Homo sapiens: one gene and its partners. The protein of the gene in region 1 interacts with the protein of each later gene in a biochemical or structural test. Each region holds a gene or a part of one and is shown on either strand. Other genes may lie near its edges. The genes, in order: AGO3, TNRC6C, TRPV4 and TNRC6A.

The links.
Region 2: the proteins of AGO3 (region 1) and TNRC6C form a complex in vitro, tested with the Homo sapiens proteins (one study listed by BioGRID).
Region 3: the proteins of AGO3 (region 1) and TRPV4 interact in a test that uses a peptide from one of them, tested with the Homo sapiens proteins (one study listed by BioGRID).
Region 4: the proteins of AGO3 (region 1) and TNRC6A form a complex in vitro, tested with the Homo sapiens proteins (one study listed by BioGRID).

What each region holds. Positions count from the first base shown.
Region 1 is NC_000001.11:36,038,730-36,046,891, reverse strand, and holds part of AGO3 (protein argonaute-3), read right to left. Parts: intron 7,103-8,162; coding exon 6,908-7,102; intron 6,586-6,907; coding exon 6,451-6,585; intron 3,446-6,450; coding exon 3,344-3,445; intron 1-3,343.
Region 2 is NC_000017.11:77,961,082-77,969,243, forward strand, and holds part of TNRC6C (trinucleotide repeat-containing gene 6C protein), read left to right. Parts: intron 1-8,162. UniProt on the Homo sapiens protein: Plays a role in RNA-mediated gene silencing by micro-RNAs (miRNAs). Required for miRNA-dependent translational repression of complementary mRNAs by argonaute family proteins.
Region 3 is NC_000012.12:109,829,894-109,838,267, forward strand, and holds the start of TRPV4 (transient receptor potential cation channel subfamily V member 4), read right to left. Parts: upstream 3,506-8,374; 5' UTR 3,457-3,505; exon of another isoform or gene 3,455-3,456; intron 1-3,454. UniProt on the Homo sapiens protein: Non-selective calcium permeant cation channel involved in osmotic sensitivity and mechanosensitivity. Activation by exposure to hypotonicity within the physiological range exhibits an outward rectification.
Region 4 is NC_000016.10:24,732,345-24,740,506, reverse strand, and holds part of TNRC6A (trinucleotide repeat-containing gene 6A protein), read right to left. Parts: intron 1-8,162.

The DNA of each region.
Region 1 (8,162 bases):
TCTATGGGATACAGAGCTGCTCAGATCTTCCAGGGCACCAATTCCCCAGTGCCAGTTCAGCTCAGGCATGGGGCTATGCCTGTTCTGGGTGGCCCAGACATGGTTTCCCTGATATGCAGGGCACTGCTTCAGCTTAGGTACTGGAGTGTGTGACTGCTCTGGATGACTAAGGCACTGCTTAGTACATTGAGATGCAATGTACTCCTTCAATTTAGGCACTGGAGAGGTATGACCTCTTTTTTTTTTTTTTTTTTTTTTTTTTTTTTTTAAATAGAGACTGAGTCTCACTCTGTTGCCCAGGCTGGAGTAGCTGGGACTACAGGCGCGCGCCATGACGTCCAACTAATTTGTTTTGTAGTTTTAGTAGAGACAGGGTTCCACCATGTTGGCCAGGCTGTTCTCAAACTCCTGACCTCAGGTGATATGCCCGCCTCGGCCTCCCGAAGTGCTGGGATTACAGGTGTGAGCCACCGCACCTGGCCGAGGTATGATCTCTTTAAATGGCCAAGGCACAAGGTGTAACAGGTGCTTGCAGCTCGACAGGGCTGTCAGGCCACTGGGCTGGAGTAATTTGGTGATAGCATAGCCTTAACAATAAAGAGGAGTCATGGCTACTTGCCCCTGGAGCAAGACATATCCCAGCTATAGTTCCACTTCCAAGATGGAGTAGTGCAGTAGCTGCTTGGACCACAGTGGGTGGAGCACAGTATCAGCTCCTTTTCTCGGGTTGGGAGGGTACACTTATGTGGACTCCAGGCAACTCCCCAAGATGGGATTAGTGCCTAAGAACAGTGCTGGGGACCCCAGTGTAGGTGTCCAAGGTGTTGATGGGGATTGCTGGGATCCTCTTGCTTATCTGTTCACTGCAGGGAGAAGTTCCTCCTGGTTCCCAGCTGATCCTGATTTGGAGATGGAGTAGTGGAGGCTCAGTGTTTCTTTCTGTTCTCTGTGTGGTCATCCCGAGTTTCTGTGCTCACCAGGGTTTCTGTTACTCCTCTGATGCACTCCAGGGCTCTCCCTCAGTTATTTTCATTAAAATATAGTTGTTTGGCCCAGTGCAGTGATTCATGCCTACAATCCCAGCACTTTGAGAGGCTGAGGCAAGTGGATCGCCGGAGGTCAGGAGTTCAAGACCATCCTGGCCAACATGGTGAAACCTCATCTCTACTAAAAATATAAAAATTAGCCGCGTGTGGTGGCAGAAGCCTATAATTCCAGCTACTCCGGAGGCTGAGGCAGAAGAATCGCTTGAACCTGGGAGGTGGAGATTGCAGTGAGCTGAGATCACGCCATTACACTCTAGCCTGGGATCACGCCATTACACTCTAGCGTGGGCGACAAAAGCAAAACTCCATCTCAAAAAAAAAAAAGGTCGGACATGGTGGCTCATGTCTGTAATCCCAGCACTTTGGTAGGCTGAGGTGGGCGGATTGCCTGAGGTCAGGAGTTCGACACCAGCCTGGCCATCATGGTGAAATCCCATCTCTACTAAAAATGCAAAAATTAGCTCGGCATGGTGGTGGGTGCCTGTAGTCCCAGCTACTTGGGAGGCTGAGGCAGGAGAATTGCTTGAACCTGGGAGACAGAGGTTGCAGTGAGCCAAGATCACACTACTGTACTCCAGCCTGGGTGACAGAGTGAGACTCCGTTAAAAAAAAAAAATGTAGTTGTTTATCTGTTTTTCTGGCTTTCTTTGTGAGGGGAGCAAGCACTAGGGGCTTCTAGTCAGCCATCTTGCTGACATCACTTCCTCTGGACCTCCCATTAACCACCAACCCTGAAAATGTACAACATTAATTGTAAAGAGGAGCTGATATAAGAACATGGATAAATGAGTCAGACAATAATTTAAAGCCATGAATCTGAAACAGGTTCGTATATGTGGGACATATAAAGCTATAAGATACAGAGCTGTATGGTAAGGTACATCTGGAAATTTCTATCTTAATCAATAATGGCAAGTAACCTAAAATAGTTTTGGGTTATAGACTCTCAGACATCCTGGGAATGTCAGTTTACTTTTTGTTGTTGGAAAGTTTGAGATGCACTGATTTAAAGCTTATGTTCCACCAAGTAAAGCTAACACATTAATGAAAAGGTTTTCTGGAAAGAATAAGAAAAACTTTTTAAATTATTTAACTGAAACTTAAGGCCAGGTGCAGTGGCTCAAGCCTGTAATCCCCGCACTTTGGGAGGCCAAGGTGGGCGGATTACTTGAGGTCAGGAGTTTGAGACCAGCCTGGCCAACATGGTGAAACCCTGTCTCTACTAGAAAAAATAAAAATAAAAAAATTACTGGGTGTGGTGGCACCCAGTAATCTCAGTCTGTAATCCCAGCTACTAGGGAGGCTGAGGCATGAGAGTCACTTGAACCTGGGAGGCGGAGCTTGCAGTGAGCCGAGATCATGCCACTGTACTCCAGCCTGGGCAACAGAGTGAGACTCTGTCTCAAAAACAAACAAACAAACAAACAAAACAAAACAACAACAACAACAAAAAAAAACTAAAGCTGTAATTCTACAATTAAATTTTTTTTTATTTTTTGAGACAAGGTCTGGCTCCGTCACCTAGCCTGGAGTGCAGTGGCATGATTTTGGCTCATGGCAACCTCCCTCTGCCTCCGCGCTCAAGTGATCCTCCCACGACAGCCTCCTGAATAGCTGAGACTACAGGCACGTGCTACCACACCTGGCTAATTTTTATATTTTTTGTAGAGACGGGGTTTCTCTATGTTGCCCAGGCTGGTCTCAAACTCCTGAACTCAAGCAATCTGCCCATCTCAGCCTCCCAAAGTGTTGGAATTATAGGCGTGAGCCACCATGCCCAGCCCAATTAAACTCTTTCACATGCTTAATACTACTAGTACATGTCAAAGTTTTCTATAAAATGTTATCGTCATTAGCTGAGTGTGGAGGCCTGTTGTCCCAACTACTTGGGAGGCTGAGGTGGGAGGACTGCTTGAGCCCAAGAGTTCTAGTCTAGCCTGAGCAAAATAGTGCTTTCTCTTTCTCTCTCTCTCTTTTTTTTTTAAAGATGCATATGCTAAAGGAACAATCAGGTACTTTCACATTTTTTAACATTTTAGTGAAATTAAGGGCCTGTTTTAGGGAGATTCATTCTATTAAACTACTTATATTCTGGTATTTTCATAAAAATAAGTTCCTAAGCCCCTCTCAAGGTAAGGAAAGGGAAGACATTTGTTTACTGAAAGTTTCATCTAATTTCATGTGGAAACAATTTGGAATGCAAAGAGTATTTCTTTATCCTTTTTCTGAGATTTAAAAAATACACGTAAGAATGACAGTTCTTGAATTAAAATATTTTACCCAAAGTGTAGGCTTACCTGTATTCCAGCATGGCTACAGAGGTAAAAATCGAACTCATATGGGTGTGTAATGTCTGTATCAACTGTTGTTCCAGCTGGGATATTGCCACTTCTTCCAACCTAGATTTGTTTGGTTAAAGTTTAAACAAACAAGAAAAAGGTAAAAATATATCTGAAAGCACTTTAAAAAATGTATGAATACATAGGCTGATCCTACATTTCACTACTTTCACCTTGAAATATGACTTAAGCAGTCATTCAGAGCAGACTACGCAGGTCCTAGTTCCTATTCTTACATGTTGCTGAAAGTGAGCGCTGATACACAACAAAACCTAATACAGTCTCTACTACTGCTTAGCTGATAGTTGACCCCACTATGGGTGGAAGACACTAAAAAAAATTTTTTTTAAATTAACTTAAAGTGCTCCAATTTATGGTACCTGTGCATAGTAGGTATTCTTGAACGTGTGATTTATGAAGATCAGCATTTACCTTGGAGAAAACTAGATGTTTAGAGAGAGAGAATGCTGACAAGATCAACAACAGTCACACCATTTGTTAACCATTTATGGATCAGGCACTTTGAACACATTATTTCTAAAACCTGGTAACAATCCTGCAAGTTAGGGATTATTTCCATTTGTTTAGGGAAATAAAGGCTCAGGAATACAAAATAATTTGCTCAATAGCACACAATAAAGGGCAGAACTGGGATTCAAACAATGAAATAATTGCAAAGGCCTTATTCCTTTTATTTCATACTATCAGTTTCAACATCTTGTAAGAGGACACCATGATTTTCTCTGAGTGGATATAATATAACTGAAATGACCCAAAATTCTTGATGATACAAGCTCCTTATAAAACACTTAAAAATGTTTATTATACCCACCTCCACCGCCTTATCCCAACACATTTAAAATCATTAACTGTAAGTCTAGGTTTACAAGGCTAGCAAATCAGAAACTATTTTACTGACTCAGATAATATTTTTGCCACGTGAGTGACTGTTATAAGGTAGTACCTTGAATTATAGTGGTGTGGACCAACCAGCTTCACTTTACCAAGCACAAAACAAAACAGTTCATAATCTACTAAATTATGCCTGGTCCTAAAAAAATACTTAACTCTAATAAATTAGCAACACGTAAATCTTCTAATTAATATATACAAAAAGTTGTAGGCTGGGTGTGATGGCTCACACCTATAATCCTAGCACTTTGGGAGGCCGAGGTGGGCGGATCATTTGAAACCAGGAGTTTGTGACCAGCCTGGCCAACATGGTGAAATCCTGCCTCTAATAAGACTACAAAAATTAGCCGGGTGTGGTGGCACATGCCTGTAATCCCAGCTACTCAGGAGGCTGAGGCCTGACAATCACTTGAACCCAGGAGGTGGGGGCTGCAGTGAGCCAAAGTCATGCCACTGCACTCCAGCCTGGGCAACAGAGCAAAACTGTCAAAAAAAACAAAAACAAAAAAATACAACTATCTCATAATCTTGTTGGTGAGGATTAAATTGATGAAATTTATAAGCAATACTTAGAACAATATCTATTATTATTTCTTCTTCTCTATTCTACCACTATCACCACCACTCTGCAGCTAGCCAAACTTTATTTATTAATTTTTTTTTGTTCTCATCACTCTACTAATGAGAGCTAGCCAATCTTTACTGAGTACTTAGTGTGGGCCAAGCCCTGTTCTAAGTGCATTACGTATTTTATTTAATTCTCCCGACAACCCAAATAAGGTAGATATTAATATTATCCAATCTTGCTAAGAAATAAACAGACACAGAGATGTTAAGTTGCTTGCCCAAAGGAATACAGTGAGTATGTATGGCAAAGAAAAACACCCCTCTCTTAGTCCTTTCTATCAAATCCCTTTCTCAAGGGGAAACAACACTTGGTATCATTAGATTTCTCTGCTCCAAGATTTACAGGATGGGGGCAGATGTGATCAGAGCACTGAAAATGACAGTAAGACTGCTGTCTTGCTGCACACAGATAAGAAAACATATTTCTGGCCGGGCGCAGTGGCTCACACCTGTAATCCCAGCACTTTGGCAGGCCGAGGCAGGCGGATCACAAAGTGAGGAGATCGAGACCGTCCTGGCTAACACGGTGAAACCCTGTCTCTACTAAAAATACAAAAAATTAGCCGGGCATGGTGGCAGGCGCCTGTAGTCCCAGCTACTCAGGAGGCTGAGGCAGAAGAATGGCGTGAACCTGGGAGGCGGAGCTTGCAGCGAGCTGAGATCGCGCCACCGCACTCCAACCTGGGCGACAGAGTGAGACTCCGTCTCAAAAAAAAAAAAAAAAAAAAAAAAGAAAACATATTTCCTTAGGTATTTATACCTCTCTTTCCTTCCTAATTATAAAAAATATACATTCACATTATAAAATGCATAAAATAATTCTGTGAACTTTAAAGGAAACATGGCTAAAAGTTAGTTTGTATAAATTTCCACTTTTTTTTTTTTTTTTTTTTTTGAGATGGAGTTTTGCTCTCTTGCCCAGGCTGGAGTACAGTGGCACCATCTCGGCTCACTGCAACCTCTGCCTCCTGGGTTCAAGTGATTCTCCTGCCTCAGTCTCCCGAGTAGCTGGGATTACAGATGTGCGCCACCACACCTGGCTATTTTTTGTATTTTTAGTAGAGACAGGGTTTCACCGTGTTGGCCAGGCTGGTCTTGAACTCCTGACCTCAAGTGATCTGCCTGCCTTGGCCTCCCAAGGTGCTGGAATTACAGGTGTGAGCCACTGTGCCTGGCCTGAATTTCCACTTTTTTAAAAAACTAATTTGTATGAGATATTTTAAAAAGAGAATGTACTGTTTTTTCTGAAGATTTTAGGAAAATATGAATAGAAGAATAATTTTAAAACCATGAGTTTCTTCACAACAAAAAAGTAGAATGAGATTTTGAATATTTGGAGTGTGACTAGAAATTCTAGAAAGTTAAAAATAATCTATTTTGATGCTTCTATACTCATAATGTAATTGTTGAAATTTGCTACTATATATTGGAAATCCTGCTGTTGGCAGAGGGCCCTTGTTGAATGCTCTATGAACTATGTTGGATAAGCTTGGTTTATAACAGTATTACAACAGAGGTGAGATTACCCTTTCTGTCCTATCAGCACAAAATAATCGAGTGTGATGTCTCTTCTGAACTACAATGTAGGTTATTCCAGGTTGATAGTCTTTCTCCAAACTGATGCAGGCTTCTCGAATTGCTAGTAGTTCATAATATAATACCTAGAGAATATGAAATGGAAAGATTCAATATAGTCAGCTATTTGTTTTTATATACTTCAAAGTAGGATAATGATTTAATCTCAGGATTCCTTAATTTCACCACTCTATAGCTAATAGATTCCATTTTAACGATTATTAGAACATGGTCTTAGCAAGCAAGGCATACACATTCGTAGTGAACATTTTCAAAAAGACAATCTAACAAAACACCAAGTTTTGACTTGGGGAACTCTAACAAGGTTTTTAACTCTAGAACTAGACACCATATTATAAACACAATATCTGATTTCACCATAGTCTGATGAGATTCTAGGTAACCAACCTGCCTAAACTGCCCCTCTGAAACACCATCCCGATAAAAGATGATACGAGTAGGCTTGAACCGAGTTGACTTATAAAATTGAATAAGAAGTTCCCGGACCATGGAGGCCAAGTCCTGGATGATCTCCTGTCGGGGTCTCTGAACTCTTACTGTGGCACAGTATCTGCTTGGGTGTGCATCCATACTACCTACAACCTAGGTTAGAAAAAGTAAAATAAATAAATAAATAAATAAAAATAAATGATAATCAAAATTACATGAATTTCATTTACATTTTTATTTTACTGTAACCTGTTCATCACTGTTTACTTTGAAAGTAATCAAAAATAGTAATTCTGAGTTGGGTATGACGGCATGTGCCTATAGTCCCAGCTACTCAGGAAGCTGAGGCAGGAGGATCACTTGTGCCCAGGAATTTAAGGCCAGCCTGGGCAAAATAGCAAGACCCCATCTCTCTCTCTTTCTCTCTTTTTTTTTTTTTTTTTTTTTTTTGAGACGCAGTCTTGCTCTGTCATCAGCCTGGAGTGCAGTGGCACAATCTCGGCTCACTGCAACCTGCACCTCCTGGGTTCAAGCGATTCTCCTGCCTCAGCCTCCAGAGTAGCTGGGACTACAGGTGTGCACCACCACCCCCAGCTAATTTTTGTATTTTTAGTAGAGATGGGGTTTCACCATGTTGGCCAGGATGGTCTTGATATCTTGACCTCGTGATCCGTCTGCGTTGGCCTCCCAAAGTGCTGGGATTACAGGCATGAGCCACCGCACCCAGCCTACCCCATCTTTTTAAAAAATTAAAAAGAATAGTACTTCCCGTTGAAGAACAGAATAAAACACCTAGTATAGGGTAAAAAACTATTTTCCTATAACTAGGCTGAACTATACATTTAACAATTAGATTCTTTGTGTTGTTGGTAGACTTAAAGATTAGTAAGGAAAGAAAAAGACAAAAAGATGTGTATAAGAGAATAAGAGAAAAGAAATAAGAAAAAACAAGGACCAATTCAAACCACTGATTTTTCTTCCTATCTCTTCCACTTTAGCAACCTATCTCAGAAGCCATACTTAAGACTTTAGCTTCATCTTAGAACTGTTACGCTTCATAAATTTTAAAATCAGAATTTTCCCTCTTGGCCTGAATCTATACAGTCTTATTGAGCTGCATTTGTGTTCTGTATCTGGTCCTCAGAGAAGTTAATCTTGGTTTTGAAACTAGCTATATTAATTTCTCTTTCTGTGTCTAATATTGTTATGTCTT
Region 2 (8,162 bases), on another chromosome or scaffold:
TTTTAAAAGCTTGTTTGTAACTCTTCTGTGCTTCTTGTCCAAAACAAAGACCTTGCTGACCTTACCTCGGTTTTACTTTTTTTTTTTTTTTTTGAGACAGTTTCGTTCTTGTTGCCCAGGCTGGAGTGCAATGGCACGATCTCGGGTCACTGCAACCTCCGCCTCCCGGGTTCAAGCGATTCTCTTGCCTCACCCTCCCGAGTAGCAGGGATTACAGGTGCCCGCCGCCACGCCCGGCTAATTTTTGTATTTTTAGTAGAGACGGGGTTTTGCCATGTTGGCCAGGCTGGTCTCGAACTCCTGACTTCAGGTGATCCGCCTGTCTCGGCCTCCCAAAGTGCTGGGATTACAGGCGTGAGCCACCACGCTCGGCCGGTTTTACTTTTAAGGTATGAAATTAAATACGGTTGATACTGAGACTGTCTGTCATAAGGTTTAATCTTAACAATTTCATTTCGGATTCTGCCATTTAAATATTCTGGTAGTAACCTGGAGTATATGTAAGTGTTGGTTTTAGATTTTCGTCCTTCGTGTTTATTGCGGGGGGCGAGGGTGGGTTTCGAGTAGCATATGTCTTAACACTAACATCATTTCGAAACAGGTTTACATTTATATTTAGTTGGCTTAGGAACTTTGGAGTAAATAGTTGCCTTTAGAATGCTGATTGTGAAGGTAGAGTGGAATGAACTGTTTCGTTTGACATTCGGTGATTAAAAAATAACTAAGTCATACAGAGGATATATGAAACTAAATACAGTATTTTTCATCACCGCTACCGCCACCTTTTTGTTAAACAGCTGGCTTTCCTGAGATACATTTGTGCTTTTCCAAATGCTGTCATCTGGCTTACTTCCAAAACCAAGCCAGAGGAGGGTCAGGGCTGGAGTAGGACAACCTTTCTCCTTAATGAAGGGAGTTTCCAGTTTGGAAAGAAATGGAAGACACAGTTCCTGCAGTGCTGGCTGGGAATGAGGTATTTACATTACCTCTCCAACCCCAATTGAAGGGGATGAGGTCTTGATTGTAACTTAGTCTTGCTTGGCCCAGGAAAGTGATGCTAACTTGACATTTTTTAAAAAAGACTACTGATGAAAGTTAATTGTTTGATTTGAGTATATAGAATATCTTTGGCATCGTAGAAGTTCACCAACAACCTTTTAAGATTGAAAAACCATTTAAAAGACTATTTGGGGGTCTTTTTGGCCTTCCCCAATAGGAATTGGAGCATTCGATTGCATGCTTATGCTTTGGATGACTGTTTATCTTTCAGTCAGGGTTTATTGTGCAAAGGTGATACTTAAGATTTTATAAGAAAGAAAATCGTTTGGCTGTGAACTCTAGGCTGTCCCGTATACCAAAGTAAAACACATGGGACAATTAAGATTTGGGGATAGAGCAAGCAAAGATTACCAAGAGCAACTGAAGCTGGTGGAGAAGGCACAAGAAATGGAGAGGAGGAGACAGGAACAGATTTATAGACGTCCTTGGAGCTGGCAGAAGGATAGGTTGAGGGAGCAGGAGGCGGAGTCCTGAACAGACTGAGCGTGAAAGGGTCTATATAAGCTGGGAAGAACCAGGTAACTTTATGTTTGTTTTGTTTTTGTTATCTTCCGTTGAACTTGTTTTGGCTTCTTTCTCATAATTTTAAGACATGGGTTTTTACCTTTTCTCCAGCTCTATCTCAGAGGGTCTTCAAATATTTTAGGTGAGAAGTAAGGAAATATTTTGAAGTGTTGGTGACACAGTCTTTGGTCTCTCTTGCATGACAACTGGTCCCAGTGAAGGTGACTGGATTTTAGTTACTTTAGATAGTTAACATCTTAATATTTTGTTTGAAGATGTCATAGATTTGAGTAGGGACAGCAAAATATCAGGTGAGAAGTGGCTCCTATTTTGTAGGGGGTAGATTGTACAGGTTTTCTTGCTTTTACTCAGTCTATGGCTATCCAAATTTATACAAATGAGTTTTTAAATAATTGTGTGGTCACGAGGAGAGCATTCTTTATAAAATGATATACAATAAGCTTTCTTTAAATAGACTTTAATGCAGTGGAGTCCATTTATAAATTTTCAGCTTATACATAACTTTTTAGGAATATAATTACTTAAAAATGTAAAGGTTACTTGTCAGAAATAACTATATAACCTTGTGCAGAAAGTGTATATCTGAAATTGAAACTGAGAAATGTATAATCTTAGCCAGTGAACTTGTTTGAATAACCCGATTAAAATAATGGTACAGTTTCCTATTGTACAGATCGTGCATTTGAAATGTTAATTTATTTAATGAAAAGTAAATTATGTAATTTTAAAAAATCTCCACCTGGGATATATATAACAAGGTTTTACATGTTTAAAACATGCTGAAAATCCATATCGTTTGTTCCATTTTTGGAGTTTTACTAAAAATGAATTCTTTTCTTAGCTTTAGATGTTTTCAGAGAATGAAGAAGCTATTGCAGGAATGGAGAGCTGTTTGTTAAGAATGCATTCCTCCTCTGTAGCCTTCAAAAGACTATAGAGCTGTGTGCAGAGCTAGACAATCTGGGCATCCAGCCATAAAACATCACTGCTGTAGCACAGATAGTTGTTCGCACTCTCCTGAGCCCTCTGTGGCTGCAAACCACAACAGAAGTAATGGTCTTGGGAAAGGAACACTCAATGTTATTTTGAACTCTTAATATTCTCTGTGTCTCTCTGAGTTCCAGCTATGCATTGGAACTTTGGTTTTCTAAAATATAGTAGTGATTAAGGATGAGCAATAATATAGCTTCTTAAGTATATTCCTCTTGTAAGCCAGTGGATTTAAATGTTTGCTCTAGGAAATAAGGGGTGTCTAGGAAATAAGAGTTGTCTGTCCCACCATCTTCCTCTTTATTTGCCTCTTTGTTGCAATACTTCTTTTCTGTTGGAGAACCACTGCCCTAAGACCCATATGATCACTGGGCCACACACAGTGCACATGGCCCAAAGAGTCATCTGGAATCTTCCAGATATTTTGTGGGATGGATTGGTCTAATTTGGCCCAGTTTCCACTTTCTCATGAACCTTTTTGGCATAACAAATTTTTAATTTTTTTGCACAAAAATGAAGAAGAGTGTGACTGGCATCTATTTGTATAAATCCAAATGGTTTACTCTGAAGACCCTCTCTGTTTTTCTTCTTCAGACCATTTTAGAAATTAATACTCTATTGTATCTTTATAACTTCCTTCTCTGAAGGATTGAACTACAAACCTATAGTATCACAGTGTCAAGTTGAATTATTCTCAGCAGTTGGATAACTCTTGTCTGTGGTTGAGTCCTTTACTAATGTGCAGACTGTCTTTTGACGTGGCTAATACCAGATGCAAGTTGGTGCCCAGGTGGTTATTGGGAATATGTGCTTTGTTTGATTCATTTTATGTGTGCCTTCTAGCTTATTAAGAATAAGATCTCTCACAGCTAAAATCAAGTGCTTGGTTTGAGCCTGGCAAAGATATTGTTTACTTTTTTATTCCCAAAGATCATTTCTTTTTAATTACTCTTTTAGGAAGCAGGGAAAATCTCAGTGAAAATAGCAACTGGGAATTAAACTAAGATCTGAAACTGGGAAATGGCAACGCGGGCACAGGTGTCACCTTTCCAACTGTTGTTGAGATGATGTGGACAACGGTTATTCAGAAATTACAGTGGGGAGGAGGGAGATGCACAAGTATTTTTTCTCATACTCCATATGAAATATGAAGTGCAGAGTGAGGGGCCCAGAGTGTAGGGAGGGAATTTAATAGGCTTTGTTCTTCAGGGGGCTATGGCTGATGTCTTAAACAAGGTCTTTTTTGGTAGGGAGGCACAGTAAGGGAAGAAGGTGATGGATTTGTGGGAACAAGTACATTTGAGTCACTGAGGACAATTGGGAATTGTGAAGTGGGAGTGGACGAGGTTAGAAAGCATCCTTAGGTAACCAGATCTCCATTTAAAACTAATCTGAGCATTTACAATGTGATTATGTGCCAAGGACATGAGTTTATCTTATTTAATCCTCACAACACTCCTGTGAAGTGGTTGCTTTTAACATTCCCATTTTACAGATGAGCAAAGGGAGTAATTTCCACAAGATCCTATAGCTTATAGGAGATGAAGCCAGAATTTAAACTCAATACACTTCAAAGCCCTCACATATGGAAAAAGCTTGGATTATTTTAATAGCTGCTTAATGAGTCTCTTCCTCTGTTCTGTGTCCTGCTATCCAGCTGCCAATATTAACTGACTGCCTTCTGAGCACTTTGTGTGTATGATCTCATTCATTTCTCCTCAGCAGCTTATAAGTTAGGAGCTGTGATTATATTCACTTTATACATGGAAGCTGAAACTGATGGAAGTTGAATAATTTGCCCCAAATCAGAGCCTTAATAAATGTGTCTAGGTCCTTGGAAGCCAGAGCTTGAGCTCTTTATCATTCCGCTGTGCTGCCTTCTGAAGCCTGAGCCTGATTACATCATTCCTTCCACAAAACCTTTATGTCTTCCCTGTGCAGCGGCCACAGGGGAAGGACATCAACTTCTTCCTGCCCTCCTGGAGCTGTCTTACTAGTATAGTGAGAGAAATGGGCACCAAACAAGTTGTTAAAAAAAGAGAGAAAGCAATACATGTGAAGAACGCCACATACACATATTAAAAAGTTGACAAAAACCTAAGGTAATAGATCATTATATAGCTGTATACTGGATCTCCTCTCTTAAGGACGCATGTCAAAATTTTGGATGCTCTGAGAACTCCAGCAGTGAAAGAAATATGTTTACCTTTATTGGCCCAGTATTTCCCAAACTTATGTGGCCATTGAACATTGTTTTCCCTTCATACCACTTTTTAGTTCAGTGGGACTGACTTTAACAAATTCAGAAAGGAAGAGTGCCTGGTCATCCCCAGAGAGGGCCTGTGGGCTGCAGTGGTTAGGCAAGACTTCACTTGAAATGAGTTCTGAAAGGCTGGCAAAGCTTGGTTGGATGAAAGGGATATTCTACAAGGAGACGAATGGGCAAGCCATGTTTGGAAATATTTTGTAAAGCGCGTAACATAATGGCTGAGACATAGTAGGGACGGGATATAGTTATTGACTGGATGAGTGCAGAGGCCTAGCTGTAAATGGAGGTTCTGTGTTGGCAATAAGGTTTAGAAGGGGCTCTATCAGGTGGAACCTCTAGTTGTTGGCTCCTTAGGAACCGTTGGTGGCTGTTGGTGGGCATGACATGAATCAGGTGTTGGATTAGAATCTTCCTTGAGCAGAGGTATGGTGTTAAAACTGGCTGTTGTAGCTGTCTGTGCAAGGTGATGCCTACATACTGGTAGGGTCAAACTGAAAAGCTGTTACAAAGAATCAGCAGGATAAAATAATACAAAATGATTGACGTGGGTTGTTGGAAAGAATGAGTTCTAAGAGGCATAGGGTACTTACTGCTCTTCCTAGAATCTGCCACAGAGGCTTTAAATTAATGAAGCTAATATTAAGATATTTGGTTAAATACACATAGTACATTCTTTTTAGATGCTGATGGGGAAAGATGACACACAAGATAGTAGTTTTAGGCGAGTTTATTGTATGAGGTTGTGTTCTGCAGTAGAGATTTGACTCACAGCATAAATCCAAGTATGTGATGAGCCATGTAATAATAGACGTCTGCTGTTAATTATGGTGGATACTCTCAATGAAATCAGATTTTCTTAGGGCCATACCCATAAAAAAATTCTTGACCTAGATCTTATATAACAGTCCCAGGTATATAGTAAATTTTATGCATATGGAATGTTGACAGGAAAGAAGAGAAAACAAAAATCTTTAATGTTTCAAGGAAGCATAAGATCAAATCATTACATAAATAGAATAGCAGCATTAGTAATTGTGTTGAAGTTACTAGAATTTTTAAATTTTAGGTAAACTTAAGAGATTCCTTAAACTTAAGGAATAATAGATTCTTTTTTACTCCTGTAGAGTGGGGAAACTTTAAAACAGATAAAAATATTTTTTATTTTATCAGTCAGGTGATGAATGAGGATCTTAGCCACTGTTGGACTTTTGTGTATATGTAGTGTGGCATTTAATTGAGCATTGTTATTTATTCTTTTCTATCAACTTTAGACTTTAAATTTCAGCACATTTCCTTGCAGATTAATGCTTTGCAAAAAAAACTTCATTATCATGATAATTTCTTAAGATTTGAGTTACTTATTAGCAGGGATAATAACATGTTCATCTTTGTAATCCCTACATCGTCTATAGTATTTTGAAGATATTTAGATAACAATCATCTGTTTCTTCAGAGATATTGCTTCCACAAGTCATGCGGGGGGGGAGAGAAGATTGATAATTGAACATGTTTCTTCGGTTTTTAATCTTTTAGAATAACGATCAACTGTGTTTTCAACTAGTAAGCCTGGTACGTGGGGCTGTATCTGCAGATTTGAGGGGAATTGGGAAGCTGACAGGTGAGGAACAGTCATCATAGGGGCTCCCTGCACTACTGTTTTCTGTAGGGTACCTGAAGGAGTGGCTAGTTCCTTTTCCTGAGGCCTCTGGGCACTGCCAATAAGTGCCACTGACCCAATCATGAAAAAACAATGTGTGACGCTTCTCATGCACAACAAAATTGTAGGTATGATAGATCAATTACAAGGTAATTCCTGGCTTGTCTTTCACAGATTTGATGATGGTCTTTAGATACTAGCCCATTGGAAAAATGAGTGTTATGACTAATGAGATTATTCTGGCCAAGCCAGAATGTCTGGTTAGCATTATTCTGGATAGACTTATATCCCGCCCTCCTTTAGGGAAAACTCTCTGGAAATAAGAGGATTTTTAAAAAGAGATTGTCAGTATTCTTTTTCTTGAAATCAATTTATGTTTACTCATAATTTCAGTACTCCTTTAAAGGTTACTTTATAAAAATTTGAGATGTAGTTATTATTCTTATTATTCTTATTCTTATTCTTATTTTGAGACAGAGCCTCGCTCTGTTGCCCAGGCTGGAGTGCTGTGGCATGGTCTCAGCTACTGCAACCTCTGCCTCTCAGGTTCAAGCGATTCTCCTCCCTCAGCCTCCTGAGTAGGCGGGATTACAGGTGCCTGCCACCACGCCCAGCTAATTTTTTGTATTTTTAGCAGAGATGGGGTTTCACCATGTTGGCCAGGCTGGTCTCAAACTCCTGACCTCGTGATTCGCCCACCTCGGCCTCCCAAAGCACTGGGATTACAGGCGTCAGCCACCGCGCCTGGCTGAGATGTAGTGGGTTGTTGTTGTTGTTTGAGACGTAGTCTTGTTCTGTCGCCCAGACTAGAGTGCGGTAGCGTGATGTCAGCTCACTGCAACCTCCGCCTCCCGGGTTCAAGCGACTCTTCTGCCTCAGCCTCCCAAGTAACTGGGACTACAGGCGCCCGCCACCACACCCAGCTAATTTTTGTATTTTTAGTAGAGACAGGGTTTCACCATGTTGGCCAGGATGGTCTCTTATCTCCTGACCTCAGGTGATCCGCCCACCTCGGCCTCCCAAAGTGCTGGGATTACAGGCGTGAGCCACCGTGCCCGGCCCGAGATGTAGTTATTTAAATAGCTTATGCACATGCCTATTTAGCCTTGGATGGCAGAATTTTGATTGGGTAGATCTTAAGTCTTCAGAAAATGGTTTGTTCTCTTTAACTTGTGATTTTCCAACTAAATCTTAAATTAGTGAACGTGAGTTTAAAAATTCAGCCTTTAGGAACACTCACAAAAGTTCTCATTAGTTTCTCTTACTTTTTATTTGTCTTTCCCACAACCTTTCCCCCCTGTTTTCCCACTTGCCCTCCTGAAACTGCACTTGAGAGTTGGGAGTAGAGAGAGACCTGGTTTGAGGCAACAGGGTGAACACAGCGTTCTTTCATTCTGTGTACTGTTGTGACGCTAAGCCTGTTAGCGTTGAGATACCAGCCCACAGCTGGTGAAAGGATTCCAGACTTCATACTGGCAGTTTATTGAGTGCCTACCATGTGCCAAGTACAGAGCACTTAATATGTTATTTCATTTATTCTCCTTAATAAGAGGAGAACACTGAGGCACTCTGAAGAAGCCAGGTCACCTAATTCCATTGGCTGTGCTCCTCACCGCTCTATTGCACTACCTCATTCAGACTGACTGAGGTAGTATAATTTCC
Region 3 (8,374 bases), on another chromosome or scaffold:
CAACCTCTCACTCCTGGGCTTAAGCGATCCTCCCACCTCAGCCTCTCAAGTAGCTGGCACTACAGGTGCGTGCTACCACGTTCGGCTAATTTTTGTATTTTTTCTAGAGACAGAGTTTCACCATGTTGCCCAGGCTGGTCTCAAACTCACGGGCTCGACCGATCCACCTGCCTTGGCCTCCCAGAGTGTTGGGATTACAGGTGTGGGCCACTGCACCCGGCCAACTCAGGTTCCTATCTCTGGACTGCAGAGTAGCTCCCCCATGACCCCAGGCACCCCAATGAGGGTCCAGACAAATGGGGACGGGCCACCTTACAGGTGAAGGGATGGATTTGCAATCACACAAATGGGATTCAGGTCCCAGCTCTGCCCCTTCTCAGCTGAGAGAACCCAGGCAAGAGATTTCACCCTCTAGACCTCATTCTGCCCTCTGAAAAATAGAGACAAAAATAGTTTTGTATCCAAATGTGCTGAGGGTGCTTGACTCAGTGCTTGGCACACAGTAAGTGCTCAATAAAGGCTTGCCACCATCATAATAGTTGTTAATGCAACCCAGGGTTGGCTAAAGCCAGACAGAACCTTGTACCCAGAGTTCATAACAGCAGCCACTTATCTCAAGAGATCGGAATTAATCTTTAACAGGTGAATTCTGCTCCAAATGGGCGATGTGGAGCATTCCAGAGGGCCCACTGGCATGAAATAAATGTTATCTTGGCTCCCCAGACCCTATCTGTGACAACAAGAGGAGCTGTTACCTGGGTCCCTATAATTTGGAGAACGGACTGGAGTGTCTTTCCCAAAGTCAAATGGGGGAAACTGAGGCAGACAGCAGGGTCAAGGGCCTGCATGGAGTAGAGACACCCACTTCATGTAGACCCCATCCCCCTAGGAACAGAGGAAGGAACTCAAAGGACTTTGACCATCTCAAAAGTATTTGTTCAGACAACCATGCCATAGATACTGACTGAGCACCTACTATGTGCCAGGCACATGAGGCTCAGTCTTGTGTGTTTCCTTCCCTCCTACATCTCCTTCCAGCTGCCGCTCTCCACTCAGAGCTTGGATGACTTCCCCAGCCTTGGGGCCAGCCTCTCTGTCTGAGCTCCTCCAATCTTTCCCACTCTGCAGCCACAGGGACCTTTCTAGAACAGACAAACAACCGTGTCACTCCCAGGCAGGACTTCTGGGCCTCTGGGTCTGATTTAGCTCCTGCCTGTCTGATCCCTCACCCTTTCCAGTCACGTCACAAACTCCAGACAAACAGAACTATTTCTCTGCTCTATAAACCCCAGGTGTAGCCACCTGGTAACAGGTAAAAGTCATATCTCTGCTAGTGCCATTCTCTTTGCCTGAATACTCTTTCCTCTACTTCTGCATTTATTCTTTAAGGTGCGGCTTAAACACTACCTTGACCAAGCCCTCGTGGGTCCTTCCTGGGCCAGTCCTCCTACCCTACGGCATTCTCCCCTGACCCCATCCATTCCACAGCATACATTTACTAAGCGTCGGCCATCCATGCACACCTTGCTAGATGCTCACAAGTCAGGTGTGGGAGCTCCTCCCCGGGGGGCCACAAGGGAAAATCCTTCTTGCCTTCACACGCCTCAGGCTACAGCGAAGCTGGGATTGGAAGCATCTCACTGCTCCAGTGCCCAGCCCAGAGCTGGCACAGGTGAGCTTGCAGAGAGCATTTGCTGGAGGAGGGAGTAAGTGGCAGAGGCCCAGTTGGCACCAGATAAGGCAGGAGGAACCTCCACAGCCCCTTCCCCAGATATAAGGTATCTGGGTTTCACCTGGGGAATCCCAGCCATCCTCACCGGAGCTCATGTGAAACATCCCTCCTGGGGGCATCACACCCTTTTTGTTCAGGCAACCATTCCCTGGTTACCTCCATTTCAAAACAGCCCCACCTTGATCTTACAAAGTGAACCGCCCTGAACTATGACTGCCATTTGCCATTTGTGTCTGGGACCCCTTCCGCGTGCAATTCACCAATCAAGGTGGGTGTCCAGGCTTTCTGGTTCCCATCATTCTTCAAACAGAATGAACTAGAGAAATGTGGAAATGGCCAATTGACTTTTTTCACCCTCTTTGTTAAGAAAATGTTTGGGGCAACGACAACTGGTTAAACATTGATGGCAGCCAACAGTGGCTGTGCCAGGTTCCTGGAAGGTCATCGGTCCTCACGACAGCCCTGGGGGCTTGCCCTCAGGCACCCCAGTATTACAGAGGAGAGAACACAAAGGCTCAGACAGCTAAGGGACCAGGCCAAGGTCACACAGCAGGGGACTGCAGAGCACACCCCGGGCCCCACACAGGCCCGCTCTTAGCCCCGCAGATAACCCAGGCCTGACCTTTCTACCCTTGTTCCCCCAAAAGCCCACCTCGTCACCCTCCTCAGGAGCCCGGGGAGTCCCGACTTACCCTCTGCCCTTGCTCCGGAGCCAAAGTGGCAAAGCTTAAATCCTCAAGCGGTTCTTAGCATCCCAGAACAAAGCTCCCACAGGGTATCTGCCTAACATTTCAGGGGTTCACGGCCCCTCTGCCCCCAGCAGAGGCTCTTGTTTTAGAAGCTGAGCCAGAACAGCCACAGGGCCCACCTCTGCCCTGCCACTTCCCAAGCACCCCGGGGGCACCAGGCCCTGTGTGCAGAGCTGGCCCCAGGACAGGCCACCTGGTGTGGTGGGAAGGGCTTTGGGGCTGGATAGTCCCTGGGTTTAAATCCCAATTGTCTAGATCCCCGACCTAAGCCTCAGTTTCCCCATCTGCAAAACAGAGAGGACAGACAGAGGGAACAGCTGGGGCAGGCTGGAGCAGTGGGTGGCTCGATGAATGCATCTGTGGTTGGTGTTTCCAGGCAAGCGGGGAGTGTGGGAGTCTCTCTCTCCCCCACCCCCACCCCCGCTACCCACCCCCAGGAGCCACCCGCCCCCGGGACGTCCTGAGAGTCCAGGGCAGAACTAGAGGTTAAAGATTTTCATGCCTCTTGGAGGAAACAGCCGTCTCTCCGGGACTCAGTAACCAAGAAGAAGCCTTTGGAAGCTCCAGACTCCAAATTCCCTCCGACATGCTCAGGGGCCAAGGGCAAACCTTAGGTCCCCCGAAATCCCTCTTCCAAGTCTCCTAAGGTGGGCTGCAAGGCTCCGGGCCTTTGGTTCCCTGGCTTGGGGTCTCAGGGAACCGAACCGCCCTCCCCCCAGACCTGCTACCCCAGGCCCCACGTTGGTGCCCATTTCACAGGTGATAAAACCGAGACCCAAAGAGCCGGTGTCCGGCCCAAGGGCACTTAGCTGAGAGGCTGGCGCCTGCGGAACCTGGTGCCTTCCGTCTCCCGCGCCCCTGGCCCGCATTTTGGAGCCTCGGGACCCCCCGGAGCCGGACGGGCCACGGAGATGTCCCCAGGGGCGCGAGGGGACCTCGGCTGAGCCGCCCCTCCCGGGCCCGGGCCCCACTTACCTCCGGGACGGCTGGGCGCCGGCGGCCGGGAGATCCGCGCTTCCTGAATCCCGGCCGGCCCGCCCGGCGCCCGTCCGCCCGCGGGTCCCTCCTCCGCCGGCTCAGGTTCCAGCCGCGCGCCGCCCCCGGCCAGCTCCCCGCCCACCCGCCGGCTCGCGGACCCCGCCGAGCGCAGGCCCTAGAAGGGGCGGCCCCTACTCGCACCCCGCCCGCCCAGCGAGGGCCTCCCCTGCGGGGGAGGTGCAGGGCCAGGGCCTCAGTTTCCTCGCCTGGAAAATGGGTGTCGCGATCCCCGGATAGAGCGGCAGACGGTCTTTGGAGAGGGCTCTAGTTGGAATCGGCTCCGATTCGATCTTGCTCCGTGACTTCGGGCCGCCCTGGGACTGTGTCCTAGTCTCTAAATGGGCGTCCCGGCCCAGTCCTCCACGTGTTTGCTCATTCATTCATTCAGCAGACAATTTCCTCCGAGGCGTTGAAGGAGGTCCCTACCCTCGGGTATGGCCCATAGAGATGGTTCAGGGGTAAATAAATGTGAGCTGCTCTCCTTGGTCTTCACCCAGTGCTTACTGCGAAGCCTGCCTCGGAGTAGGCCATCAATGTTTTGTTGCTGTTGTTTTTGAGACAGGGTCTCACTCTGTTGCCCAGGCTGGAGTGCGGTGGCGTGATCAGGAATCACTGCAGCCTCAACCACCAGCGTTCAAGCAATCCTCCCGTATCAGCCTCCCTAGTAACTGAGACCACAGACGCCTACCACCATGCTTGGCTAATTTTATTTAAATTTTTTGCAGAGATAGGGTCTCACTATGTTGCCTAGGCTGGTCTCAAACTCCAGGCTCAAGCGATCTACCCACCTCGGCCTCCCAAAGTGCTGGGATTAGAGGTCTGAGTCACCGTGCCTGGCTCAATGCGTTTTTGTTTATTTTTTTTATTATTATTATTATTTTTGATACATGTTCTCCCTTTGTCACCCAGGTTGAAGTGCAGTGGCATGATCACGGCTCACTACAGCCTCAAACTCCTGGCCTCAAGAGATCCTCCCACCTCAGCCTCCTGAGCAGCTGGGAGTACAGGCATGCGCCACCACACCCCACTAATTTTTATTTTTTTGTAGAAGGGGGGGTGGGGGAGGGCAGCCGGTCTACAACTCCTGGCCTCAAGTGATCCTCCCACTTCAGTCTCCCAAAGCACTGAGAGTATAGGCATGAGCCACCACACCTACCCATGTATTTTCTTTTATCAGATAACAAAGGTGGGCCCCAACACATAGCCATACCCTCTACCCAGCACTGAGTCCACTTGAATACCTCCACAGGATGGGCAGCTCACTTCCTCCAGGGTGGTTGGAAAGCCTAGCAGGCCCACAGCTTGGCTCTGTGACTCTCTAACCCAGCAGCCCTATGCAAGTCCCTTCACCTTTGTGCCTCAGTGCCTCTACATCCCCCTGTAGAGTGGGGCATACAAAAGTCCTCACCTCACAGTCGCAGTGAAGATGCTGGGAGCATCCAGGCTGTGCAGAGCCCTTTTTTTTTTTTTTTTGAGACAGAGTCTTACTCTGTCGCCCAGGCTGGAGTTCAGGGGTGTGATCTCAGCTCACTGCAACCTCTGCCTCCTGAGTTCAAGCGATTCTCCTGCCTCAGCCTCCTGGGGGCTGGGATTACAGGCATGCGCCACCACGCCAGGCTAATTTTTTGTATTTTTAGTAGAGACAGGGTTTCACCATGTTGGCCAGGCTGGTCTTGAACCCCTGACCTCAGTTGATCCACCCACTTTGGCCTCCCAAAGTGCTGGGATTACAGGTGTGAGCCGCCGTGCCCGGCCCAGAGCCATGCCATTTTCATCATTAGTGTTTTCACTAAATTGAGCTGACTCAGGGACTGTGGGGTAGCTCCTTCCTCCTCAGCTTGAAAATAGCAGCATCTCTCCTGAGGTCCAACAGCTGGAAAGTGAAATTTTAGAATTGCTGGGTGGGGAGGCGAAAGAGAGAGAGAGAGAGTGTGTGTGTGTGTGTACCCCTGAATAGGAGTGATGTGTTCACCTCCAGCGTGAAACATTTACAAAGAAACAAACCCTAATAATTAACTCACTGAGCACAGAAGCCTAGGGGATGAGAGGGAGAACAGGCTGTGAGGTAGGGTTTGCTCTACCCATTTTGCAAGTGGGAAACTGAGGCTTGGAGAGGAGTATGGCCTCTCCAAAAGCTGCTCCCTCCATGGTGGGGGTTGGGGTGGGAAAGAGAACCCTCTGAGGGTCCGGAGTAAACAGGCAGATGTCTGGCAGTGGAGAGGAAGGTAAACACAGGGCCCCTCACACCTCCCTGACAGACAGCTATCTGCTGGGGGCCCTCAGGGCTGGGGCTGGGGCTGGGCCAGGTTGAGAGTGGAGGAGTGAGTCTGGGACCCATTTCTGCAGAAAGGCCTGTCTCAATTTAAAGAAAATGGCAAGGGTGATTCCAGCCATAAGGCAGCTGATGTTGGGGACTGGAACTGGGGGAGATGGGGCCAGGGATGGCGACCTCCTCTTCTCTAAGCTCAGAGGGAAGGGGCCTGAGCGCTCAGCATCATCATCACTAACCCAGCTCTTTCCTGATCCCCATTTCACAGATGGGGCAACTGAGGCCCCCATGTAGGGAAGTGACTCATCTTGGGCTAAGCAGCTGGAGCTTGGCCTCTGCACCAGACACTGGGGTTCAAATCCTGCCCTGCCGCTGATGGGAGAAGGAGCTGTGGTGGGAGCTGTGGGCAAGAGCCTCCCTCTCTCTCTGTGCCTCAGTTTCCTCACCTAAAAAATGGGTACCAGTGTCCATGAAGCAAGGGAACGTGTTCATGACCACAGGTCTAGCACCTGGCACTTAGTAGGTGCTTTAAAAATACTGGTTGATGGGTCAGGCGAAGTGGCTCATGCCTGTAATCCCAGCACTTTGGGAGGCTGAAGTGGGCAGATCAACTGAGGTCAGGAGTTCGAGACCAGCCTGGCCAACATGATGAAACCCCGTCTCCACTAAAAATACAAAAATTAGTTGGGCATGGTGGTGGGCACCTGTAATCCCAGCTACCTGGGAGGCTGAGACAGAATTGCTTGAACCTGGGAGAGGGAGGTTGCAGTGAGCAGAGATCGTGCCACTGCACTCCAGCCTGGGCAACAGAGAGCGACTCCATCTCAAAAAAAAAAAAAGTCCTGGTTGATGGAGCTGGGGGAGAGGAGAATGGGAGGTTGCTGTTTGTTGGGCGTAGGGTTTCAGTTTTGCAAGATGCAAAGAGTTCTGGAGATGAACGAGGGTCACACAACAATATGAATATACTTTTTAAGTTTAATTTTTAATCTTTTTTTTTTTATTTTTAGAGAGAGACAGGGTATTGCTCTGTAGCCCAGGCTGTAGTGCAGTTGCCTGCTCATAGCTCACTGCAGCCTCAAATTCCTAGGTTCAAGCGATCCTCCTGCCTCAGCCTCCTGAATAGCTGGGACTATAGGTGTGTGTCACCAAGCCTGGCTTTTTAAATTTTATTTTTTGTACAGGTGAGGTCTCGCTATGCTGCCCAAGCTGGTCTCAAACTCCCGTGCTCAAGTGATCCTCATAACCTGGCCTCTCAAAACATTGGGATTACAGGCATGAGCCACTGTGCCTAGCCAGAAATAATGTTTCCTCTTAGGGAAGGAAAAACTTTCAAGGCCCTCAGCATTGGCTGTGAGTCATGTGGCAGCCACATGTGGGGCGCAGCCTTGCTCTCCACGTAGCTCCTGGACTGCCCCAGGTGGACTCAGCTACCTCCCCTAAGAAAGGTTCCTGGGCAGCAGCCAAGGGTCTGCATTTACCAAGTGCTTACTGTATGCCAGGTCCAGTGCCAGATGCTGGGGAGAGATTGGTGAGCCAGACAGGTCAGGATCTCAGGGACTTTATACCCAGGGTACCCAGTTATAAAAACAAGACACGTGCACCTCACTTTACAGTTGGCACAGTCCTGATCCTGCCACTAACTCAGTTCATCTTTTGACAGCCTGGAAAGGAGGAATTCTTCCACCATTTTATAGATAATGACACAAAGAGGCCACTTGTCTGAGATCATCCCACAACTGGTAAGATTTGAACCCAAGCCCAGCAGACTCTACAGTGTAGCATGACCAGCAGGAATATTTTCCTGGCCAGGTGCGGCGGCACACACCTGTAATCATAGCATTTGGGGAGGCTAAGGCAGGAGAATCACTTGAGCCCTGGAGGTCAAGGCTGCAGTGAGCTGTGTTCAGGCAGCTACACTCCAGCCTGAGCAACAAAGTGAGACCCTGTCTAGGAAAAAAAGAAAAAAAGAATATGATCTCAAAAAGACAGACCATAAGTGTGGATGAGGAAGTGGAGAAGCTGGAATCTTCGCACACTGCTGGTGGGAATGTGTAATGGAGTGGCTGCTATGGAAAACGGTCTGGCAGTTCCTCCAAATATTAAATCTAGAGTTACTGCCAGGCACGGTGGCTCCCGCCTGTAATCCCAACACTTTGGGAGGTCAAGGCGGAAGGATCACTTGAGGCCAGGAGTTTGAGACCAGCCTGGCCAACACGGTGAAACCTCATCTCTAATTAAAAAAAAAAATACAAAAATTAGCCGGGCATGATGGTGGGCACCTGCAATCCCAACTACTCAGGAGGTTGAGGCACAAGAATTGCTTAAGCCCAGGAGGCAGAGGCTGCAGTGAGCTGAGATTGTGCCACTGCACTCCAGCCTGGGCAACAGAGTGAGATCCTGTCTCAAAAAAAAAAAAAAAATCTGGAGTTCCCATATGACCCAGCAATTCCACCCCAGAAATATAGCCAAGAGAAATGAGAACTTACGTCCATAGAAAAACTTGAATGTTCATAGCAGCATTATTCATAATAGCCAAAAAAAGAAAACAACTCAAATTCTCAATGGATAAACAAACACAGTATATCC
Region 4 (8,162 bases), on another chromosome or scaffold:
ACACACTGAAAACTACACAACATCTTTGAAAACAATTAAAGACCTAAATAAATAGAAAAAGATTCCATGTTCGTGAACTGGAAGACTTAATATTATAAAATGCAATACTGTCCACACTGGCCTACATATTCAACACTGTTCCTATCAAAATCTCAGCTGCCTTTTTGCTGAAATTGACAAGCTGATCCAAAAATTCACATAGAAATGCAACCAGAATAGTCAATGCAATCTTTAAAAAAATTTTTTTTTAATAATTAGTCTCTGGTTATCCAGCCAATGCAATCTTGAAGGAAGGCTCATACTGATTCCAAACTTATTACAACAAAGCTGAAGTAATCAAGACAGTGTGGAAGTGGCATAATGATGAACACATAGTATCAACAGAATAGAATTGAGAGTCCAGAAATAATTCTTCATTTTATGATCAAGTGACCTTCAACAGGGTGCCAAGATGAAAGTCTTTTCAACAAATGAAGCTGGAATTACTGGATAGTTACATAACAAGAATGACATTGGAGCCCTCATGCCATATGCAAAACTTAACTCAAAATGAATTACAGAACTAAACATTAAGAACTAAAACTATAAAATTATTAGAATACAAGTAAATCTTTGTGACCTTGGATTTGTTGCCAACAACACAAGTAACAGAAAAAAATACTGGTAAACTAGATTTACAAAATTTTAAATTTTTGTGCTCAAGGGACTTCATCAAGAAAGTGAAAAGAGGCTGCATGCGGTGGCTCATGCCTGTAATCCTAGCACTTTGGGAGGCAGAGGCGGGTGGATCATTTGAGGTCAGGAGTTCAAGGCTGGCCTGGCCAACATGGTGAAATTCTGTCTCTATTAAAAATACAAAAATTAGTTGGGCATAGTAGTGGGTGCCTGTAATCCCAGCTACTCAGGAGGCTGAGGGAGGAGAAACGCTTGAACCTGGCAGGTGGAGTTTGCAGTGAGCTGAGATCATGCCACTGCACTCCAGCCTGGGCGACAGAGCAAGACTCTGTCTCAAAAAAAAAAAAAAAAAAGTGAAAGGAAAAGCCACAAAATAGGAAAAAATACCTGTAAATCATATATCTAATAAGGGACTTGTATCTAAGCTATATAAAGACCTTTTTCAATGACAAAAAATATCACCTAATTTAAAGATGGGAGAAGAATCTGAATGGCCACTTCTCAGATCAGATATACGAATGGCCAATAAGGACATGAAAAGATGCTAATCATCATTAGCCATTAGGAAAATGTAAATCAAAACCATAATGAGATACCACTTTACATCTATTAGGATGGCTAAAATCAGAAACAAGAACCCTAACAAATGCTGGCAATGGAAAGGATGTGGAGAACCTAGTGCCTCCATACATTGCTGATGAGAATGTAGAACTGTGCAGCTGCTTTGCAAACAGTCGGGCAGTTCCTCAAAAAGTTAAACAGAGCCTGAGCAACACAGTGAAACCCCATCTCTACAAAATATAGAAAAAATTAGCCAGGCGTGGTGGCATGCACCTGCAGTCCCAGCTACCTGGGAGGCAGTGGTGAGAGGATGGCTTGAGCCTGGAAGGTGGGAGGTTGCAGTGAGCTGAGATTGCACCACTGAACGTCAGCCTGGGCAACAGAGGGAGTCCGTCTCAAAAACAAAACAAAACAACACAAACAAAAGTTAAACAAAGTTACCATATAACCCAGCAATTCCACCCCTAGGTATATAACCAATAGAATTGAAAATATATGTCCACACAAACATTTGTACATGAATGTTCATAGCAATATTATTCATAATAGCCCCAAAGTTAGAACAGCCCAAATGCCCATTAACTGATGAACGGACAAACAAAATGGGCAATAGCCATACAATGAAATTTATTTGCCCATAAAAAGGAATAAAGGATATATGCGACATGATGGACGAACCTTGAAAACACTACACTAAATAAGACAAGTCACGTACAAAAGTATCATATAGTATGATTCCACTTAAACGAAAATAGGTAAGTCCATAGAGTTATAATAGAAAGTAGATTAGTGGTTGCCAGAGGCTGGGTGGAAGGGACAAATGGGGAGTGGCTGCTATTATGGGGTTTTTGGGTGAAGGGGTGAAAATTCTAGAATTAGACAGTGGTGCTGATTGCACAACTCTGTGAATATACTAAAAACCATTAAATCATACACTTTGTGGACTTTAAAAGGGTGAATTTTATCATATGGGAATTTTATCTGAATAAAGCTGTTATTTAAAAGTTGAGAGAAACTGAAAGGTACATTCAGAGAAGGAAGAGTTAGGGACAGGGCAAAAGGTGGAAGGGACAGTGCTAAATTGATAAGCTGAGCAAAAAACAAGAGTCTGGGCTTTAATTCCAGAGTCACTGGGAAGGAGCCAACAAAGGTTTCTAAGAAATAGTGACTGACAGGCCTCAGAAACGTGGCTCGAGGACGATTAACCTGCAGCAGTGTAGAGAATGCACATTTTATGACCCTATCTTTGTAAGATTTTCACTATATGCCTCACATTGCAAAGAGATTCACAAGTGGAATAACATATAAAACATATTTCTCTTACATCAGTTATACAGTCAATTATCAAGGAATAAATGATATTTAAAAGGACATTTAAAATCAGCACACACTTAACTACCATTCTCTCCCGTCTGTGCACACATGTTTTAGGGAAACTTCAAAAGAATGGGAGAAAGAAGGGACCAAAGTCAACAAAACACAGACGTCATAACTCTAAAAATATTCAATATTATTGCAGCAAACTGCTCAATAAGTGCTCCCTGACTGAAAACCACTAATAAGAACAGCAAAACAACTGAGTTGGCTTAATCTTGTTTGTTATTATACAAAATCCAATCAGTCACTGTTTGCAGAAAATATCTTGTAAGGTTCAAAGTATAAAATTCTTCAACCAGGTTTCAATCTGTTTTGAACATTCCATTTGAAACGGGAAGTCAGCTGAGTCATCATCACATAATATACTACTGCTAAAAATTCAAAATGCTTTTCCCTAGTTACAAGAGTGGAAATGCTAGGATTTCTCCTTCATAGCCAACTCAAACACACAGAGTATGCAAATCATTTTTAAAATAAGACATCTTAAATAGGAAATTTAAACTATATTTATTTTCATGGGTGGCTTTTTTTTAAGATGGAAAGAAGCTATGCCTTAGTCGAATATTACTTCCTTTTGAATCTCAAACATCTTCCTCTTATTGATACTATTCAGCTCCTCTGACAACCTCCTCATAAAGAAGCAGTTTCTTAATCTTTGAGGAGTAATGACCCTTTGAGATCTAATGAGCACTAAAGACCATATCTGCTTTTGTTGTGGGGTTTTATTTTTATTTTTATTATTTTATTTTGGCATACATTCAATTTTGCAAACCACTTCATAACACCTGTGGTCCCTCTGTGGCATCGGGATGAGAACCCTTGGTCTGGTGGCACCGTGCCACTCTAATTTCAATGGGGCATTCTTTTAAGAAAGCGTATTACAAGCCCAGCCCCAATGTTTCATTTTCCTACCAGGGTTATCAGTTCATCACTGGTCAAAGCTGAAAACAAGCAACTTTTATGTCCCACAGTAAGGGAGCTACCTTTGGCATAAATCTTCATAAAAGCAGTAATCATTATGGCTGATCGATTTAAATACAAAGACCTGTAATTACTGTAACCTCAAATATTTAAAATTACATCTCGGTTTAAACCAATTGTTTGGCATTTCCTAAAATGAAAGAAACACCAAGTCAGTGTAGAAGTAAGAATATTGGATAACCTTTCGGTTAATTTACTTCAAAATGCTGTGGGGAGGGAATACTGAAGACAAACACATCATCACCTATGGGATACTCCTGCCAAAAAGGGTCAACCTGAACCTAATCATACAGACAAGACCCAAAAAATGCAAATTTCAGTCTGCAAAAACAACTAGACTGGACTATTTCAAAATGTCATTGTCAAGAGAGAAGCAGAAAAGGGCAGGAAAATGCTCCTAATGTAAGAGAAACTTCAGACACAACTAAATGCAACCCAGGATACAGCAATTGAGTGAAAGAACAAATACAACTTTAAAAAAAATTTTGAGAAAATTGGGAAAATCTGAATAGGGACCAGACAGAATTGTAAAGTTAAACTTCCTGTGGGTGATCATTTGATTGCTGTCAGGTAGAATGCCCTTATTCTGTGAGATACCTACTGCCATACTTTGGTGTGCAATGTCACGATAGAACAAATGTGGCAAAATATTAATAATCACTAAAACTAGGTAAAGAGATACAGGTATTAGTTGCAACATTTTTCCAATTTTGCTTAAGGTTAGAATGATTGATTATTTATTTGAGACAGAGTTTTGCTTTTGTGCCCAGGCTAGGCTGGAGTGCAATGGCGCAATTTCGGCTCACTGCAACCCTCGCCTCCCAGGTTCAAGCGATTCTCCTCCCTCACCCTCACAAGTAGCTGGGATTACAGGCATGTGCCACCACACCAGGCTAATTTTGGTATTTTTAGTAAAGATGGGGTTTCACCATGTTGGTCAGGCTGGTGTTGAACTCCTGACCTCCAGTGATCTGCCCACCTCGGCCTCCCAAAGTGCTGGGATTACAGGCATGAGCCACTGTGCCCGGCCAATTTTTTAAAATTTTAAAATGAGATAGGGATTTCTGTTTTTTCAGTGAGAGATTTATCATGCATCAGCCTGAACAGAATACATATAACGCATACCATTTTAGTCTTTCCAATCATGGGCAATACTTTTGCAGTTGTCATTAAAATTGTAAATATGTTTTGCAATTTATACTTTCAGACATTTCAGATGCCAAAAATCAAAAGAGCTTACAGAATGGTATTCTTTTGATGTTTATATTCAAATTTTCCACAGAGGGTTGTTACACATTTTTAAATTAAGTTTACAGATTGTGATTAATTTATCCTATCAAGTGATTTACCACCTAATTGCCAAATTAAGCTGGAAAAAAAGCATATTGGGTTGGTACATTAAAAATGAGCAAAAACCACAATTAACTTTCGCACCAACCTATAGCAATATGCATGTGTTGGCCTGCAAACCGTATCACAGCAAAGCAAAAGAAAAGCTTAACAAAATCAGATTTTCTTTCTTTTTTTTCAGACAAAGGTTGATGAATTGCATGAGTGGGATCCACCTTAGCTACGGAGACCTAATGCCTTGGGGTTTTACTCCTGCTGTCCTAGTCATTTCTTTTCTTTCTTTCGAAACAGAGTTTCACTCTGTTGCCCAGGCTGGAGCGCAGTGGCACAATCTCGGCTCACTGCAACCTCCACCTCCCAGGTTCAGATTCTCCTGCCTCAGCCTCCCAAGTAGCTGGGATTACAGGCACATGCCATCACACCCAGCTAATTTTTGTACTTTTAGTAGAGACGGGGTCTCACCATGTTGGCCAAGCTGGTCTTGAATTCCTGACCTCAAATGATCCACGTGCCTCAGTCTCCCAAAGTGCTGGGATTACCCGTGTGAGCCACTGCACCTGGCCAGTCCTAGTCATTTCTAATATAGCATTTGTCCCACGCAAAAGCATCTCAGATAAGTGTCCCAGTTTAGATGCAACATTATATGGTATATAGCACTTTTAACAACTTTTGTTATATGATGACATACAGTTGGTTTATGGGGGGACAAATCAGTATAACGTGAAGTTAACTTCTACTTTAAACAAAACACATTTAGTACATGATAGTAAAGTCATCACTAGAATGAACATAACATATTGAGATAACTGCTTTTACTCTTTTAGAATAAAAAAGGAGAAACCAAAATTATATTTTATCTATTGTGCAATATAAAATAAAATACTGCACATGGGAGGAATACTAGAATTAGAGTCAAAAGGCCTGTTTAAATCCCAGCTGGGTCACTTGACAGAGAATATAAACTTGCGTAAGTTACTGAATCTGTTTCAACCACAGCTTTCTCACTTGAGAAATGAAGAAGTCAGAATGCTGGCTGATCTCTATCTAAAGTCATAGTCCAGCTCTAAATATTCAATGATTCTATGATTCTGGCCTCCAAAATATTTTTTCAGACTAGACCAGCTGAGTTCTACTGGTCTAGACCAGTACTGGTAGATTTTTTTTTTACAACTGCAAAATGTAACTTAGCATCTTCTCTCCCCAAACTCCTATTTCTGCTCTGACTTGTTCTGTTCAGAGGTTGGGTCAAACTCTCATTCACCCATGATGAAGATTCCTATGTATTTTTGACTCCTCTGACACCTAATCAGCTGTCAAATCCCAGATTCTTAACTTCCTCAGTATCTTATACACTCATCTTTTTTTTCCTTTCTCTCTCTTTTTGCTTTGAGACAGGGTTGCACTCTGTTTCCCAGGCTGGAATGCAGTGGCACAAACTCAGCTCACTGAAGCCTCAAACTGCTGGGCTCAAGCAAACCTCCCACCTCAGCCTCCCAAGTAGCTGGGACTACAGGTGCACACCACCACACCCAGCTAATTTTTTAAAATTCTTTTGTAGAGGCAGAGTCTTATCATGTTGCACAGGCTGGTCTCAAACTCCTGGGCTCAATCCTCCTGCCTTGGCCTCCCAAAGTGCTGGGATTACAGGCGTTAGCCACTGGGTCCAGCCTCACTCACCTCTTTTTGCCACCACTTCAATTCAGGCCTCCATCGCTTCTTGCCTAGATCGCTAGTTTTCTCCCATAAATACACCTGGTTAGTAATCCCAGACCAGAAGATTATTCTATCACATCAGTACGCAACAAAAAGCATGCAATAGCTCCCATACCTAAAAATTTATGCACAAGTTCCTCAACCTGACATTCAAGAACCTCTATATCTGGCCTTAACCAGTTTGCTACAAATACCTTATATAACCTGAACTACCCACTGCAATATCAAAATCTCCTGTACTTTCTGGATTTTTGTGTCCTTACTTCTGTTGTTGTTCTTACAATGCCCTTTTATCTGCCTTTCAAAACTGATTCCATTCTTCAAAGTTCAGTTCTAATGGTAATCGCCCTCATGTAGATATTATGGCTCCCATGATACTAACATAATGTGACAATTTTAATGGCCAACTGTGAATTTTAAAAGACAGTTTACCTATGATAGTAAACTAAATTTATTATTTGTGCCAATGTTGTTTAACTGGCACTGGCTACCAGGCACACTGTCTTGAGGATTTGCAGCTTAGCAGAGGAAAAGGAGAATGGCAACACATCTTTGACATTCAGAAACCAGGGCTTCCAAATTGAGGATCTACATAATAGGGTCTAGGCTTCCATGTTATTAAAAGATTTTTTTTTCTTTTTTCAGACAGAGTTTCACTCTGTCAAGTAGGCTGGAGTGCAGTGGCACAATCTCGGCTCTCCGCTCCCAGGGTTCAAGTAATTCTCCTGACTCAGCCTCCCGGGTAGCTGGGAATACAGGCGCATGCCACCACGCCCAACTAATTTTTGTATTTTTAGTAAAAATGAGGTTTCACTATGTTGGCCAGGCTGGTCTCGAACTCCTGACCTCAAGCAATCCACCTGCCTTGGCCTCCCAAAGTGCTGGGATTATAGGTGTGAGCCACAGCACTCGACCAAAAGATGTTTAAATTAACTCAACATCTAAAAGTTTGGAGGCTTTCACGTTACAATTCCTAATGAAGATCTAGAGCAGTGGTTCTCAGCCAGGGTCGATTCTGCGCCACTCCCAGGGACATCTAGCAATATCTGGAAGCATTGGTGATTGTCACAACTGGACGGGGAGTGCTACTGCGGATGCTGAACATCCTGTGATGCACAGAACAACCCTCAAAATAATAAATTATCTGGTCCAAAATGTCAAGTGCCCAGATGAAAAAACTGATCTAGAAGTATTGCATGCATCTGTGGGTCCCGCCTACCAAAAGAAATTTTCAAATTTTGCAAGTTCGAAGCCTAAAAAGTTACTCCAATTACCAGTGATATGGTCTCCTCCAAGTTACTTAACCTCTTTATACATCAAATTCTCCATCTGTAAAACGGAGATAACAATACTACCTACCTCACAGGGTTTTTCAAGGATCAGATGAGTCCATGTAAAATCTTAGGAAAAGTGTGCCAGGCACATAGTAAGCAATCAATAAATTTAACTACTTACATTCTTCCCTGGCTTAGTGCCCAGTCCCACAGTTGAAATATCGAAAATGC